Regions from separate parts of the Homo sapiens genome. Here region 2 is linked to region 1. The links come from fine-mapping of genetic effects on gene expression. Tissue or cell type: whole blood. Region 1 holds a variant in brackets; the other region holds the start of a gene. All regions are shown on one strand. Distances are from middle to middle.

The links. PIP is the estimated chance that this variant, and not a neighbour inherited with it, causes the effect.
Region 2: HEXIM1 starts here. The variant in region 1 is fine-mapped to the expression of HEXIM1 in whole blood (INTERVAL, PIP above 0.99).

Annotation. Positions count from the first base shown.
Region 1 is chr17:45,123,583-45,131,766 of GRCh38, reverse strand. All of the region lies in intron 1 of PLCD3 (phospholipase C delta 3), which reads left to right. It also overlaps a transcript of ACBD4 not described here. Among named protein-coding and RNA genes, the nearest start is that of PLCD3, 4.8 kb to the left of the region's middle. The variant T/A (reference allele first, on the strand shown) is at 4,543.
Region 2 is chr17:45,144,064-45,152,215 of GRCh38, reverse strand. It overlaps HEXIM1 (HEXIM P-TEFb complex subunit 1), which reads right to left and starts at 3,741. Exons shown (of 1, transcript NM_006460.3): 1 at 117-3,741. The coding sequence starts at 3,025. The coding sequence ends at 1,946. HEXIM2-AS1 (HEXIM2 antisense RNA 1) reads left to right here. Exons shown (of 3, transcript NR_186789.1): 3 at 1,297-2,554. ACBD4 (acyl-CoA binding domain containing 4) reads right to left here. Exons shown (of 10, transcript NM_001135705.3): 10 at 8,040-8,152. RefSeq lists enhancers at 2,353-2,412, 2,083-2,638, 3,043-3,152, 3,203-3,252, 3,303-3,352 and 3 more and a silencer at 7,654-7,893.

The sequences.
Region 1 (8,184 bases):
CTCTGGCAGGACTGGTCTAACAGCCTACGTCCGACAGCCAAGGCTCTCACCTCAGATTTGGGGAAGTCAGTCGTGGAGAAGGAATGTAACTGTGGCTCATTGGAACATCACAGAGGCAGCTGGCACTGGGTGGGTTACACAGGTGGTGTCTTGCAATCTTCCTCGACTTCCTAGGTGGGAGGTGAATCCTCATTTCACAAGTGAGGAAACTGACTCAGAGACGGCAAGGAATTTGCCTATGACCACACAGCCAACAAAGGGCAAAGTGTGACTGGCACCCCGGTGGTGCCCCACCACATGGGCCCTGGTACCCTCTCAGAGTCTGGGAAAAGTGGGACCCGCAGGGCAGTGGAGGGCTTGAATGAGAGGGTGTGTGCGAGAATGTTGTCTGACGTGGAAAGGACCGCGCCACTGAAGTGCTGCGTTGGACCTGCCATTGGTAGAATAGTCAGTGATGGAGAGGCTAGGTGTGGAACTCCGGAACAGAAGGACAAGGCTGCCAGGGACCCCGTGTAGAACTTGGGGCAGAATTCAGGGGTCCTGATTGCCAGTTTTGCCTTCTTGTTACCTCGACTCATTCCACCTGAGCGCTGACTATGTCTGGGCGCTGTGCCTGGCACTCTGGTTACTGAGACATAGGACACCATCTCTACCCTGCCATCCATTCAACTGTGCATGCATTGGACAAGCACTTATGCGGTGCCCATGGTATGGTACTATGGTACAAGCACTTGTGGAGTGCCTATGGTATGCTCCACCCTGGGGCTCTTGCATTAGAGAGCTGAGGTTCCAGCAGGGAGATCAGACAGTGAAACAAAGGAACAGGACCTTGGGGGTGGGGGAACAGGGGGCAGCACATGAGGGGCTGGGGAGCCAGCAGGCCCTGGCTGGCCCCAGCTGAGGAAGACGGGAGTGGCAAAGGGGAGAGGCTGGGGGTGGGAGGAGCTCCTCCAGGCCCTCCCTGGAGAGTCATGGACTTTATCTGGAGGGCATCAGGAGCCCCAGAAAGGGCTTGGGCAGGAGTGAGTGTGGAGAGTGGGGGGCAGGTTGGATGAAGGCAGGGGCGAAACAGGGAGACCCAAGGAGGGAGGCTGAGGAGTTAGTTGGGCAAGGGGTGGGGACCAGACTTGGGGGACACCCAGGATGGACCCCAGAACTCCCAGGAGATAGACTGGGCTGGACTCTGTGATCGACAGGTGTCATTCTCTGGGCTAAGAAATGGTGTGGTTTGGGGATGGCTGAGGGCAGCCCTGGGAGTCAGCCCTGGCAGGGTCACGGGTGCCGCGGAAGGGCTGAGGGGAGGCCCCATGCCCATTGGCCTCTTCATCCCACACGTTTGCTGAGCGCCATTAGTGGGCCAGGGTGCTGTGCCAGGGGCTGGGGCTACAGAGATGAGTAGCACAGAGCTTTGCCCTCAGGGAGTGCACAGTTTAGTGGGCAGAGTCACATGCAGACAAATAATTACAGCTGAGCCCGGGCCTCGGTACTCATCAGCTGAGTAAGGCTGCACGGGAGCTCTGGGCACCTCATCAAGGTGACACTCTCGGGAACTACATAGATATCAGAATGTCATCTAGGTCACCCTCATTCCTCACCACTGCCCTGTCCTGCTGAGTGACTGCAGAGAGAGGAATGTTGAGTCCGAGTCTGTTGGGAATGTCCCTTCCCCAGGCCATAGGGAGTCCAGGGACAGGGTGGAGAAGGAAACCCAGTCTTGGGGCCCAGCCCCTTGGGCCATCAGAGGCCAAGGCCTAGGCCTGTCACCCAGGTAGCCTCCCCCGCCTCGCTCTGCCCCTGCCATCACCACACCCCTTAGCCTAACAGAGAATAGATTTTATATCAAATCAGGTCAAGGGACTAGGGCAGGGAGTGGCTTAGAGGGGCCTGAGGAAGGAAAATCCTTTAGGGCCACACTAGGGAGACCCAGATGAGCGGGGAAGGAGGAAGAAAACACCCCCACAGTGAGTGGGAGTCCTTTGTCCCCCCTCCAGTCCCCCGCTCCTGGGCTGGGCTGCGGACTTGCAGGGAATCATTGAAGAGAGAGGAGCGCTAGAGCCCAGTGAGCACCCGCCATGCGTGAGGCACTGTGCTGAGCTTGCATCAGACCTGATCCTGCTTAATCCTCAGGCATCCCTGTGCGGGAGGTGCTGTCCTCATGTCACATTACAGACGGGAAGCTCAAGGCGGAGGGGTGAAATCACCGCCCAAGGCCACATGCCTGCCTGCTGCCAGAGCCTAGTTTTCCATGATGGCTCCCAGTGAATACTTTTTGTTGTTGCTGTTGTTGTTAGTTGTTTATGAGACAGGGTCTCATTCTGTCACCCAGGCTGGAGTGCAGTGGCATGATCATGGCTCACTGCAACCTCAAATTCCTGACCTCAAGTGATCCTCCCACCTCAGTCTCCCAAGTAGCTGGGACTCAGGAGACTGGGAGACTGGGTACCACCACATCCAGCTAATTTTGTTTCTGTTTTTTGTAGAGTTGGGGTCTCACTGTGTTGTCCAGGCTGGTCTTGAACTCCTGGGCTAAAAGAATCCTCCTGCCTTGGATTCCCAAAGTGCTGGGATTACAGGTGTAAGCCACCATTCTTGGCTAGCCTGATGAATACTAATGAACAATTTTGTCACTGTCCCAGGCGCTTTTCGCATATTATCTCATGTAATGCTCACACTAATATGAGGTAGGTGGTACCAGTAGCCTTCTCTTACAGATGAGGAAACTAAGACTCAGAGAGATTTGGTAACTTGCCTAGGGTTCAAAGCTGGGAAGTAGCTGAGAGAAAATTTGAACCCAGGCAGTGTGGCCCAGAGTCCGTGCTTGTCACACAGTGACTGATAGAGAAGCTGATACCTGCAGGGGGCCTCCTGGCCGCTCCTCTCCCATGGGGGCCCTGCCAGCCCCCAGGAGCGTCCTCACAGGGCTGCCAAATAAAATACAGAACACCCGGTTAAGTTTGGAATTCCGCTAAATGCGGAATATGGAATGTATTTATACTAAAAAATTATTCTTTATCTGAATTTCACATTTAACGGGTGTCCTGGATTTTCTCTGGCCACCCTGTGTCCCCACAGCCCCGTGTGTGCCTGTGCCCTGATGCTCCGCCCCTGCCCCTCATCCTCCCCATGGGCAGAGGCCTGAGTGGGCAGAATCCTGCCCCCTTGCCTCCCCAGCCTACACACACTACCAAGTGCCCCTGAGCGAGAGGGCTCGGCCCATGGCCTGCCTGGGATGTCTTCCGCAGGGTGAGTGGGACTGCTGTGGGTGACTTGGCAGGTGAGGGTCTTCAGAACAACCCCCAGCCCTGGCAGGTGCCTGGCCTGGGTGGTGGGTAAGCTGGGTGGCCCTCCAGTCTAAGCAGGGGCATGCCAGGTGGGACTAGGGGGCTGGCTCTGCCAGGCCCTGTGGTCCCCCTCACATCTTTCCCTGTCCCCTACCCTGACTTCCGCACCCAACCAGGTTTCATGCCTGTTCTGGCCCCAGAGAAAAGGGTGCTGCCACCCCCACTTGCTGTGTCCCACCCGGGGCCAAGGGAAGCACCGCCTGCCTTTCCTGACTTTGTTGATTCTCCAAGGAATGTTATGGACTCTGGCACCGAGCCCCCGCCAGGCTCCAGCCCTGGGTGTGGCAGCCAGCTGGGTCACGGGGGACATGCTTGGTGCCTGAGGTGTGGAGGCTGCCTGCTGGCTAAAGGATTAGGGTGGGAGGGTCTTTGGGACCCCTCGCCATTGTGTGTCCTCTCCTAGAGCCTCACAGCCCCGGCCACCTGGAAACGCTCTTTCTCTACTCCCTGCTCGGCCTTGGCCACAGCTGCTGGCTGTAGCAGTTCCCTGCATGACTCGCATTCCTGTGGAGCCCTGTGTGCACCTCCCGAGTGCGAGCCGCCTATTTCCCCCTGGCTGGCCCACCTTCCACCCTCTCCACCCATGAACCCTGTACGCACACACACACTCACACGCACACACTCACACACATTCACTCACACTCATACACACACACTGTCTCACGCACACACACACTCCCCACCTATGCATACACCCCACACACACCCTGCCCTGCCTGCATGCCACCCCTCCGGGACACGCCTGGACAGAACTCCCACCCTCCCTGCCAGCTGCCCTGGCGCCTGTCTCCACTGCACAGCCTCTATATCCATCCCTGCCTGGGGGCGACCTGCACTATCTTCAGCACACAGGGCTTGTCCTCTCTGAGCTCAGTGGTGCACCTGTGAAAAGGGTGGGATTTGGGGCCCCTTCCAGCTCTGACATGAGGTAGTTTCTGGTCCCTGGTCTTGGCTACCCTTACAGAACTGCTCAGGCCCCAGACCATCCACGCCCCAAACCGCCCGGGCTGCAGGTGGAAGTTGAGAAACTGGGCCTGCCCTTTCCTCAGCACGCCTGACCCCTCTCTGAGGCTGAGATAAGCGGGCAGCTTGGGAAGGTGTCTGAGCCCCAGCTGACAACACTGAATTGGGCGGGAGGTGCCGCTGTCCTGGTCTGGGGAAGGTACCCCCTGGAGGCCATGGGACTAAGGGGACAGATGGA[T/A]CAGAACACGTGGGTGCCTCTTTCCACCCGGGGCACTAACTCACTTCCCCAGAGCCCTGCCTCAGTTTCCTTCTTTGTGATCATTTACTGAGCACCCACTATGGGCCAGGCCTAAACCAGGCTCCATGTGCTTGTGCCTGTTGTGGCCACACACAGCCCTTTGGGGTCAGACTCCCCCAACTTCCACCACATTTCAGCCCCACCGGGTGCCGACCTGGCTGTCTGCTTCTTTAACAGCATTTTTGAGATATTCATTCACATACCTTATAATTTATCCATTGAAAGTACACAGTGCGGAGCACTTTGGGAGGCAGAGGCTGTTGAATCACTTGAGGCCAGGAGTTTGAGACCAGCCTGGGCATCATAGTGTGACCCCAACTCTACAAAAAAATTTAAAAATTATTCAGGCCTGGTAGTGCAAGTCTGTAGTCCCAGCTCCTCGGGAGGCTGAGGTAGGTGGATTGTTTGAGCCCAAGAGTTTGAGGCTGCTGCAGTGAGCCATTATTGTGCCACTGCACCCCAGCCTGGCTACAGAGCAAGACCCTGTCTCAGAAAAAAAAAAAAAGTATACAATGGTTTCCAGCATATTATATCATTAAACTTTAAAAATTATGGTAAAATAGGCCGGGTGCTGTGGCTCACGCCTGTAATCCTAGCACTTTGGGAGGCCGAGGCGAGTGGATCACTTGAAGTCAGGAGTTCGAGACCAGCCTGGCCAACATGGTGAAACCCCATCTCTACTAAAAATACAACAATTAGCCGGAAATCACTTGAACCCGGGAGGTGGGGGTTGCAGTGAGCTGAGATCGTGCCACTGCACTCCAGCCTGGGCAACAGAACGAGATGCTGTCTCAAAAAAAAAAAAAAAAAAAAAAAATAGGCTGGGCGCAGTGGCTCATGCCTGTAATCCCAGCACTTTGGGAGGCTGAGGTGGGCGGATCATGAGGTCAGGATATCAAGACCATCCTGGCTAACACGGTGAAACCCCGTCTCTACTAAAAAATACAAAAAAAATTAGCCAGGTGTGGTGGCGGGCACCTGCAGTCCTAGCTACTCAGGAGGCTGAGGCAGGAGAATGGCGTGAACCCAGGAGGCGGAGCTTGCAGTGAGCCAAGTTCGTGCTACTGCACTCCAGCCTGGGCAACAGAGCGAGACTCCATCTCAAAAAAAAAAAAAAAATATGGTAAAATATATATAATGAAATTGGCCATTGCAACCATTTTTAAGTGGTTAATTCACTGGCATTAATTACATTCACGCTGTTGTGCAACTATTACTGTTGCCTATTTCCAAAACTTTTTCATCATCCAAACAGAAACTAACCATCAAGCAATAACTCTCCATTACCTCCCCATTCCAGCCCCTGGTACCCTCCCAGCTACTTTCTGTCTCTATGAACTTGCCGCTCTGGGTACCTCACATGGGTGGAATCACATAGTATTTGTCGTTTGGGGTCTGGCTTCTTTCACTTAGCATGATGTTTTCAAGGTTCATCCATGTTGTAGCGTGCATCAGATTTCACTCCTTTACATGGCTGAATACTATTCCATTGTATCGATAAACCATATTTTGCTTATGCACTCATCTGTCTCATATGTTTTTTGTTTGTTTTGTTTTGTTTTGTTTTTTGAGACGGAGTCTCGCCATGTCTCCCAGGCTGGAGTATAGTGGCACAATCTCAGCTCGCTGCAACCTCTGCCTTCCGGGTTCAAGCATTCTCCTGCCTTAGCCTCCCTAGTAGCTGAGATTACAGGCGTGGGCCACCATGCTCGGCTGTTTTCTATTTTTAGTAGAGACGGGGTTTCACCATGTTGGTCAGGCTGGTCTCGAACTCCTGACCTCAAATGATCTGCCTGCCTCGGCCTCCCAAAGTGCTGGGATTACAGGTGTGAGCCACCATGCCCAGCTAATGTTTTATGTTTTTAGTAGAGACAGGGTTTCACCATGTTGGTTAGGCTGGTCTCGAACTCCTTGCCTCAAATGATCCACATGCCTCAGCCTCCCAAAGTGCTGGGATTGCAGGTGTGAGCCACCATGCCCGGCTGATGTTTTATATTTTAAACAGAAACAGGGTTTCACCATGTTGGTCAGGCTGGTCTTGAACTCCTGACCTCAAATGATCTGCCTGCTTCGGCCTTCCAAAGTACTGGGATTACAGGTGTGAGCCACCATGCCCAGCTAATGTTTTTTATTTTTTGTAGAGACAGGGTTTCACCATATTGGTCAGGCTGGTCTTGAACTCCTGACCTCAAATGACCCGCCTGCCTTGGCCTCCCAAAGTGCTGGGATTACAGGCTCATCTGTTGATGAGCACTCGGGTTGTTTCCACCTTTTGGCTTTCGTTTGCCCTCATTTTCACTGCTATTATTTTGTGATTGTCTCCACCCACTCAGTCACTGGCCCGGCAGCTACAGGATCAAGGCAGAGATGGTTCAAGTAGATACAAACCCCACAGGAACAGTAGGAGGTGGGCGGCTTGTGCACCTGCTCAGAGCAGGTAGGAACAAGGTCAAGGCGACATCTGTGGGCTTGGGCCTGGCAGGACCTATAAATGTCTACTGGGTGGCTGGATGGAGAGCCACGGTCCTCGCAGCATCGCTGCCCTGGCCCTGAGCCCTCCCTCTGACCTTGCCTCCTTACCTCTGTTGGCCCTGCCCTTCCTGCTGGACACCCCAGTCCTCTCACTGCCCCAGGGTTCAGAAGCACGAGCAGTGGGGACACAGAAGCACCCAACCAGGGACTCAGCACCTGGCCCCGCCTGGGACTGCACCCTCCTTCTGTTTGGCTTTTCCACTGGGTGTGTGTTTGGGGGGCAGTGCCAGTTTGCGGGGCAGCCTGGAATGTCACCCCTTCCCCCAACAGGTTCCTGGGGAGCTGAGGGTAAGGGGCCAGAAGTAGGGGCCCCCTCCATTGGGAGCCTGCCCAAGTGGGGGCCCAGTCAGGCGTTCAGGCTGCCTGTGTTGATGGCCTGTTTGCAGAAGGCTCTGGACAGAGCAGGCCCCGGTGACTCACCCCCATTTCCGGCCTTAGTCACTCATCTCCCCCACACCCATGGGCTTGGCATCAGAGGGCTGGCCTAGGTAGGGGAGGCAGCCCCAGCTGCAGAGCCTGGTTGTCATGGCAATGAGCAGTCCCCCTTCCCATGGCCAAGGGGGTGTAGGAGGATGTGCCTAAGTGTAGTGGCGCTGCAGGCTCCCCTCTGCCCTCACCGTGTCATTGCTCAGGATGGGACCATTTAGAGGCTACCTGGACCTGGTTGGGGGGGGGGTCTGGTGAGCCCCTCGGCCTGGCACGTGCCGTGTACACCCAGCTCTTTGTCTGGAAAGAGGAGGGTTCCACTTTCCCCTTCCTGACCAGGGGGTACCGAGTGGGCATTCACTCAGAGGGCCACAGTCTAGACCCTGAGGGACCCTCTGGAGCTGTTAGGGCCACAGGCTGGCCCCAAGGGGTCATGGCCTCTTAAGGAGGTGGATTTCTCCTCTTGCCCCTGAGACCCTGATTTTCAGTCATGGTCAAAGTGGGTTTTAAAAATACAGATGCCCAGGCCCCATCCCACACCAGCTGGGTGAGATGCCCTGGGCTGTGGTGTCTGCAGCCTCCCCTGGGTAATTCCGATGCACAGCTAAGGTTGAGAAACCCTGA
Region 2 (8,152 bases), 20 kb before region 1:
AGGCTTCAGCTCTGCACTGTAAAGCCAGAGGGCACTGTTGCTGCCTTTCCAAGCAGCTGTTTTTCTGGGGCTGCTGCATGACGTCATAGCAGAAGAAAAAAACACGAAGAAAACTATTTCAAAATAAATGTTTAATATAATTTTTAGACCAAAGAAAAACTCAATCATACATTGTCTCCAGTGGACCATATGTGCCAGAACAGGACCAACTCAGTCCAGCTTTGAAGGCCCTGATTCAGTCCTACTGGTATAATCTCCCTTGATTTATTGATTTGTGTATGCTTCTTATGCAATACAAGGTGCATTTTACTCTTGAAGTCCCTATCACCTCCACCATCGCCATTTAACTGCAAAAGCATGCTTCCTAATGGGAGGGTTTTCTTCCCCCTTCCCTGCAGAGGTTCTGAACCTTCAAGGAGTTTGACAATCTTATGAATCTCTTGAACCTTCTCCCCAGAAAAATGTACATACAAGTCTACAAATAATTTCATGGGGTTCATGGACCCCAAGGCCCACAATGGTTTCTAAGGCCCCAAATTAAGGAACCTCTGTGCTAGTGATTTGAGCAACGCAATTGCCCTCAGAAGACACTGACACAGGGCAGGTGAAGGACTGGGTTAACCAAAATGACAGGAGGCAATCTCATAATTTCTGTTTTTATTTTGGGGCAAAATTTAGTTCTCAGGGCCTCCCTACGTTTAAGAGCAGAACTACTCAAGAACCTAAGCAGCTATCAGCATAGTTTAAGCGATTTAGAATAGGGCTGTGCAAGGGGATGTACAGGGTTCCTCATTCAGCTGAGGACCTCATTTAGCTCCTTAACTGGAAGCTTTACATTTGATCTGCAGTGAGGGGACATTTCTAATTTTAGTTTGACCCACATGGAAAGGTGGATAGCTTTTTTTTTTTGTTTTGGTATAGAGAGCACGTAGAATTGGACAATTAGGTAAATCCTTGGAATCCCCCAAACAGCCATTTGCTTTATAAATCCAGTATTTCTTACCTCTGAACGTCTTAAAGAGCTGCCTCACAAATTAATCTAACCATTGCTTGCACTAAGAAGTTTGCCAAGAGCCTCTTCCAGCCTTACTGGGGGGAAGGAAGAGATTACTGAAAACCAACTTGTAGGAATGAAATGAGGCTGTCAGTTGTCTAACCTAACAAACTGCCAAATTAGGTTTACATTTTTTGTTATTAGACTTTTGAATGGCCGAGGCAGAGTTAAATTTAAAATTTTGGATTGTAGCCACTTTCCACTCGCCTAAACACTCAATACCGGTTTGTTTATTTTTCCAGCATCAAGAAAGAAAACCAAGGCACTAGAAAGCAAGCACACTTAAGTATTGAAGATAATTACATCTTAAATTTTGCCTGAACTGTATATTGTAGCATACTTAAACCCATTCAAGGAAAAAATTGGCAAATTGAAAATTCTCCCATTAAAGATTGATATTTTTGCAAACTGACAAATTTAACGATTTCGGTACCCCTCCCCAAAAATGCAGTCACATAAAATATATCAATACTATTTTGAATTAGCTCTAGAAATCACACTGAAACTATGTTACATTTACAAATATTAAATTTATTATAACTAAAATGAATTTAATTGTTCTCAGATTTGGCCACCTTATAGCTCCGTTTAAGGAGGGGATTTGTTAAAAACAAAAATGCATTATAACTTGGTCAAATTACTTTCACATTAAGGAAAAAAACTTCTAAAAAGGAAAACAAGAAAAGCAACTCTTCAGTTTCACATAATTAAAAGAACAGGAGAAAGCACGCAAGCTACATATAGCTAAATTTACGAAACCAAAGCCAGGGGGATTTCTCTTCTGATTATGTGTCATAAAAAGGTCCACTGTCTTATATACACATGTATATAATGTTACATTCCATCACTGTAAAAAGTCCCCTTTGCCCCCTCCCCCAAAAAAGTTTCAGTCTAGTCTCCAAACTTGGAAAGCGGCGCTCGCTCCTGCTGCCGGTGCAGTTCGTTCTCGGTCAGCAGCTGGAGGTTCTCGGCGCGCAGCCGGTCCAGCTCCAGCTCCAGCTCCCGCACACGCGCGTCGTCGCCACCCAGCCGCTTGCTCTCCAGCCGCAGCCGGTTGTTCTCGTCCTCCATGCGCGAGAGGCACTTCTCCAGTTCCAGGTACTCCTTGATGAGCTCCTGCTTGCTCATGTTCTGCAGGCTCTCCGTGTGGTACCGCTCGTACGTCTCCGAGAAGTCCCGCTGCAGAAACTCGCTGCCGTCCCCTCCCATCCCATCGCTGCCCCCATCCTCCTCACCCCCTTCTTCCATGAAGTCGTCATCGCTGGTGTCGTCGGATTTGGCGGCGGCCCGCTTGGAGTACAGGCCGGTTTTGAGATCCGGCTCCTCCTGGTCGTGATCATCCATGAGGAACTGCGTGGTGTTATAGGGCGCGACCGGCTGGCCCTTGGCGAACATCTCGGCTCGGATCCTTGAAGCTCGAAGGCTCTGTTTCTCGTCGAACTTTTTCTTCTCTTCCCAGGTCAGCTTGTAGTACGGTTTCCAATGCCGCTTCTTCTTGGACGGGCGTCTCCTATGTTTTTTCTTCCCCAGCTGTCTCTGCTGCTGTCCCCACTCCTCTTCGCCCCCTGCGGCAGGAGCCCCCAACTTACTGGCCTCGGAGTCATGACAAGGCTGGGCGAGCAGCTCGGCCTCGGGCGTCGGTTCCACTTCTGCCGGCGGCGGGAAGTCGCCGCCAGCGGACGAGTCGTCCCCATTCTGGCCCTTCTCGCCCTCTCTCAGGCAGCTAGATTCTGGACAGGCCTGGGTCTGCAAGGGAGGTGGTTGGGATTCCAGGCTCCCTTCCCCCTCCGGCCCCGGACGGCCACCCAACTGGGGGAACGCTCTCGATTGCCACCTACTGTCCTCCTCGGGCACCCGCTCCTCCGCGCCTGGGGGGCGCTCAGGGTTCAGCTCTTCCTGGACAGCAGCAGCACCTGTACAGTTGCTAGTTTGAGGCTGGTGTTGATATTCTGACAAGAATGGCTCGGCCATGGCTAGTAGAGTCCTCGAAGTTTAAGAAATTTTGGCTAGTAAGTCCTTAAGGAAAAAAATGGGTTTTTCTTAAAAAAAAGAAAAAGAAAAAAAAAACAGTCCAACAGAGTCCTCTTCAGTTTGTAATTCCTGCAGTGACGCCTTTAGCTAGTCCTTCTATCAGCAAACTCCAACTGCAATCTGGGGAGCTCAAGTCAGTAAAGGGTTAAGCGCCCACAGTGCGGCCAGCTAGCGGGTCCAAGGGGGTGCAGCGGCAGGAACAGTACGTAATGGGCGGAGGTGGGCCTCAAACCTCCAAGCGGAGCACCCCAATAAAGGAGTTGGTGAGCAAGGTGATGAGGGTAAGTCCAGTGCGTGAAACCCAGCCCCGAAGGGGTTAAAACTACCGATGACGCTGCCTCCGAGGGGCCAGATCCACAAAGGGTTAAATCCCCTGCCGCAGAGCCCACAAGGGGTTAAAGTCCCGGCGCCACCTCCTCCCACTTCCACGGGTGTCGCTTCCACCCAAGCTCCCAGTTCCCTAGGCCCGGCCGTAGCCTCAGCAGAGGACAGACAAACTCATCTCCCCTTTGGCTCGATGCTCTGCTCTGCTCAGTTCTCCTCCGCCTCCTCCTCTTTTCCTCCCTCCCTCCTCCCCCTTCCCACAGCTCCTCTTCCGCGTCCTCCCCCGACTTTCCCTCCCAACCTGCCTCTCCACCTGCCAACTTCCAACTGCTGTCTCCCAGTCCTCTGCGCCCCTTTTATATAGAAGCTTTTTCGCCCCGCCCGTGCGCATGCGTAACGGAGTTCCCTTTGCGGGGCGCCGGGAGTCGTAGTTCTTATCTTTCGGGCCCGCCGCCCTCGCGCGCCGTGCGACGTAGCCAATCCCAGGACGCGTAGGGGGCGTCTCCCTGGCCGCCACCTTCCATCGCTTAGACCTCGCTAAAGAAACGCGAGCGGCCATTGGTGAAAAATCACACGACTCGCTGAGGAAGGACGGCCAATCGCAGAGAAGATGGGGCGGGTTCTGGACCGTACCATTCTGTTTCAGGAATACGAGAAGATTCGATGGCCTATGAGAGTCCTCACAGAATATTTTTATGAAAAGGTGCGTTATAAAGGCTATTATCGTATTTTGTTCTCAGCGGAGGGGTTCCGAAGGTTATGAACCTTTATTAACTAACGCAAGAATGGTTTATTCCTAAAAAGTAGTCCCTAAAATGTAAAAGAATTAAATCCTATAAAGAGAGACGTCGGCCCACGGCTGCTAACTCGCGAGTCTTAAGATTATAGAAATGGCTTCAAGGCGGGTGGTGAGTGCCTGAGACTGACACTTGCGGAAGGATATCGCGAGCACATTTTGTAAAGACCGAAGAGCGCATGAAGAAGTAAACAAATGAAGAATAAAAAGTGCCGCCTTAAAGGGACAGTGTGACTGCGTTTAGCGCCGCAGGCTCGCACTAGGCCTCGGAAGACGAAGAGGCGGGTTCGAGTCCCGGTGACGCGACTCCCGGACTGACCTCGGTACCCTTAGCTGAAGGTGGCGGAGTCCCAGCCCCAGCCTGGTCTCAGAAAGCCGCCCCCGCCCCAGGGGCAAATGCAAACTGGTGATTCGCGACCAAGGCTCTTCCCTGGGCCGAGATCGGAAAGCCGGGGCCGGGGGCGGGCGGGGGAGTGGAGGGGGAAGCGGGGGAAGGCCACGCCCCCACGCCTCAGCTTCTGTCGAAGAAAATGGCCTCCTGGGGCCGATTTGGTCTTTTCACTTCCGACCGAGATCATTTCCTGAGCCGGGACAGAGGAGGTCCGGGACAGCCATGAGGCTGTTTGTTGGGAAGAGTTCGGAATGATTAATGAGTTGAAATCATCAGCCCTGGCTATCCGAGAGGGAAGCAGGTCTCACCCGCAGAGGCCCTTCCTCATCAGTGGGCGCTGGGCAAGACTGGGAGGGAAGCATGGAGGAGGCCTTGCTCCGAAACTTGCTGCAGGGGATTCTGGCGCAGGGCTGGGGGGGCCGATTCCCCCGGGGGCGTAGTTTCTCAGAGAGAAATTCTCTAGACCCAAGCCCCCAGCCCTCCATAAACAGGGACTGAGAGGACCCAGAGAACCCTCCATACCAGTCACTGAGGCCTAAAATCTTGGCGCCCTTTCCACTTCTCCTTCGCCACACACCCAGTGACCCTTTCTTCTTATTGCTTCCTTAATAGCATCCCTGACATTCCAGCACGTTTGCACTGTGTACCTTTTACGCACAGAGCCATGTGACCTCACCACAGCCTGGCAAGTTAGACACGATAGGAATGAGTGTCTCCATTTTACAGATAAGGCATCTCTAAGACACTGGAAAATAAGTGACTTGTCCAAGGTCACATGACAACCATGGGGCAGTTCTGGCTAGAGCGCTGGTCTTTGTGACCCCCCCCGTGCCATTTTTCTTTCTGTCACAAACACAAAACCCATTTTTTCTTAAAATCGGGGAATACTCTGGATTTCGTTCTTTTTATTCCCAACAACTTCAACCTTATTCAGCCCCTATATCACTTGGCAAACAGGAGGGTACAAAGAGGGGTGGGATGCCATTCTTGCCTTCAAGTTGCTCCTGGACTGTGGAGAGGCCATCAGACCACAGCCAGCCTAAATGGCAAGTGAGGGAAATCCTGGTGGGAGCTGATGAGCCGAGTGCATGGGAGCTGGGAATTATGGACAAGTGTCAGGAGCAAGTGACTTCCTGGCTGGCTCTGAAGGATGAAGAGCTTTCAGGCAAAGTGGCACGAAGAGGGGCATTTTAGGAAGCCCAAGCATCATGTGCCAGGAAAGGGCTAGTCTGGGACTTCGGTGGCTCTGGGCAGTGTGAGATATCGGGGGTGGGGGCCAGTGGTGATGGGCATGGCCAATGTAGATGCCTCTAAGGGGAGCCGCAAGCACGCGGGCCTCTGGGCACAGCTATATGTTCTGAAAATGAACACCTTCATTTGTTTTCTCTGGGCTTCCAAGAATTCGGGTCCACCTGAAAAGTTCGCCACTCCGTGTGGCTTCATCCCTTAGGAGGCTTCCTGAGAGCAAGAACTGCCCCTCAGAGCACTCCTGGAGGAAAAAGGGATTTTGCAGATAACTTGGTTATCACAGAGAGTTATCACAGAGACCTCCAAATTGTTACCCCATCTTCAGACTCCAGAGGATTCTGGGGTACCCCCAGTCAGGGCATTTGGAAGGCACTGCTGAGCCTAGCCTCAGTGTCCTGGACTGGGCTCCACTGTATGGTCTCGTGTTCTATTGGGGGAGAGGTGGACTGACGAATAGGTTGTGGAATTCTAGAATTCTGTCAAGGGGCCAGGCAACCTTACTGTTAGCTGGGTTCTAACCCTTTGCCAGGCATTTAACATGCCCCATCACTGGTAAACCCCAGGACTGCCTTATGAAAAAGAGATCAACTCTATTTCACAAAAGAGGCCACCCAAGGCCAGAGCAGTTAAGAATCTTCCCCAAGGGGGCCGGGCGCGGTGGCTCACGCCTGTAATCCTAGCACTTTGGGAGGCCGAGGTGGGCGGATCACGAGGTCAGGAGATCGAGACCATCCTGGCTAACATGGTGAAACCCCATCTCTACTAAAAATACAAAAAATTAGCCGGGCGTGGTGGCCCCCGCCTGTAGTCCCAGCTACTTCCGGGAGGCTGAGGCAGGAGAATCGCTTGAATCTGGGAGGCGGAGGTTGCAATGAGCCGAGATCGCGCCACTGCACTCCAGCCTGACAACAAAGCGAGACTCGGTCTCAAAAAAAAAAAAAAAAAAAAAATATCTTACCCAAGTTCCACAGCTACTGTGCAAGTGGTGGAGCTGGCTTCAGCTCCAGGCCTGCATCCCCCACCAAGGTGGCCCTGCTGTTGTCTGTCCTGCTTGCTGCAGTCCAGCCTTATCACAGGGGCTATTCAGCCTGTGCTTGTGACCCTGGGCTGAGCCGTGCAGGTGCAGAGCGCACCGTCTAGCCTCAGGGATGCCTTCCCGGCTTTGAGAGGACTGACGACTAAAGAGTGACTGTGGCTTCCAGTGGGGCCAATGATGGCGAAGCCTGGGACGGTGGTCGAGACTAGAGGCTGACAGGGAACTCAGGAGTTTAAGGATCTCAGCCAGGGGCCTTCAGAACTGCCTCTTCCTTACCCAGGGGTAGGAAGGTCCTAGGGCCCAGGTGGTGGCAGCGGCGGGGGACTGCGGTAGAGACCCTGGCCAGTGGACTTGGAGGCGCTGGCACCAGGCGGCCCTCAGAGCGGCCAGTTTCGCCACTGAATACAGGCCGGACCGAGGCTTGAGCCAAGACGGCCCACGGACGACAGGGCTTGTGCTGGACAGAGGGAGGCCAAGGCTTCTGGCCCGTACCCCCCGACGGCGACTGCACGCGGGCGCTCGGCCCACCCCGACAGGGGCTTCCAGGCGCGCAGGGCCCTGCTCCCTACTCAGGGCGGGGCGAGGACGAGGCTCTCGCTGGGCCTTGGCCTCCCAGAAAATCCCCTGGGAAGGCCCAGGCCCGGAGGTCAAGGTGGGGCACCGGGAACTGAGGCAGCTGAGGAGGGGGCAGCGGACATTTCTGGGGCCGGGGGCTCGGAACCCCATCTCTACGCCCGGGGCGCGGAGCTGGAGCAGCCGCGGTCCGCTTTGGGCGGGGGCCAAACCAGCTCCTCGGCCCCGCCCAGCCGTGCTCCGCTCCTCCCCGCCACCCCCAGCTCGCTCGGACCCCGCGTCCCCGACGGGGCGGCGGGCTGGGCCGCGCCCTCGGCCCCCCGCATTGGCCCCGCCTTCCCAAGGGCGCCCCGCTCCCAGCCCGGGCCACCCTTGGTTCCCCTCCCTCTCCCCTCCACACAGAGGCCTGTTTTCCCTTCGCTTGCCCGGGGAGGAGGGAAAATATTCCCCATTCAGAAACACCAACCGCTGGCTTCTTTCAGGGCCATCAGGGGGGCATTGGGTGGGGAGCAGGAAAGGGACTTGTGCCTCGCTCGCGCCGGGCCCCGCTCCCCGCTCCCTCCGTAGGGGACCAGACAGCAGAAGATTCTGGTTTTCTTTTATTTAGTGAAACATTCCTTTGTAAGTGAATCTTCAATGAAGACGTCCCGAGTGTGTGTGGGGGCGGAGGGGGCCGGCAGGGGAGGAAAGCGAGCAAAC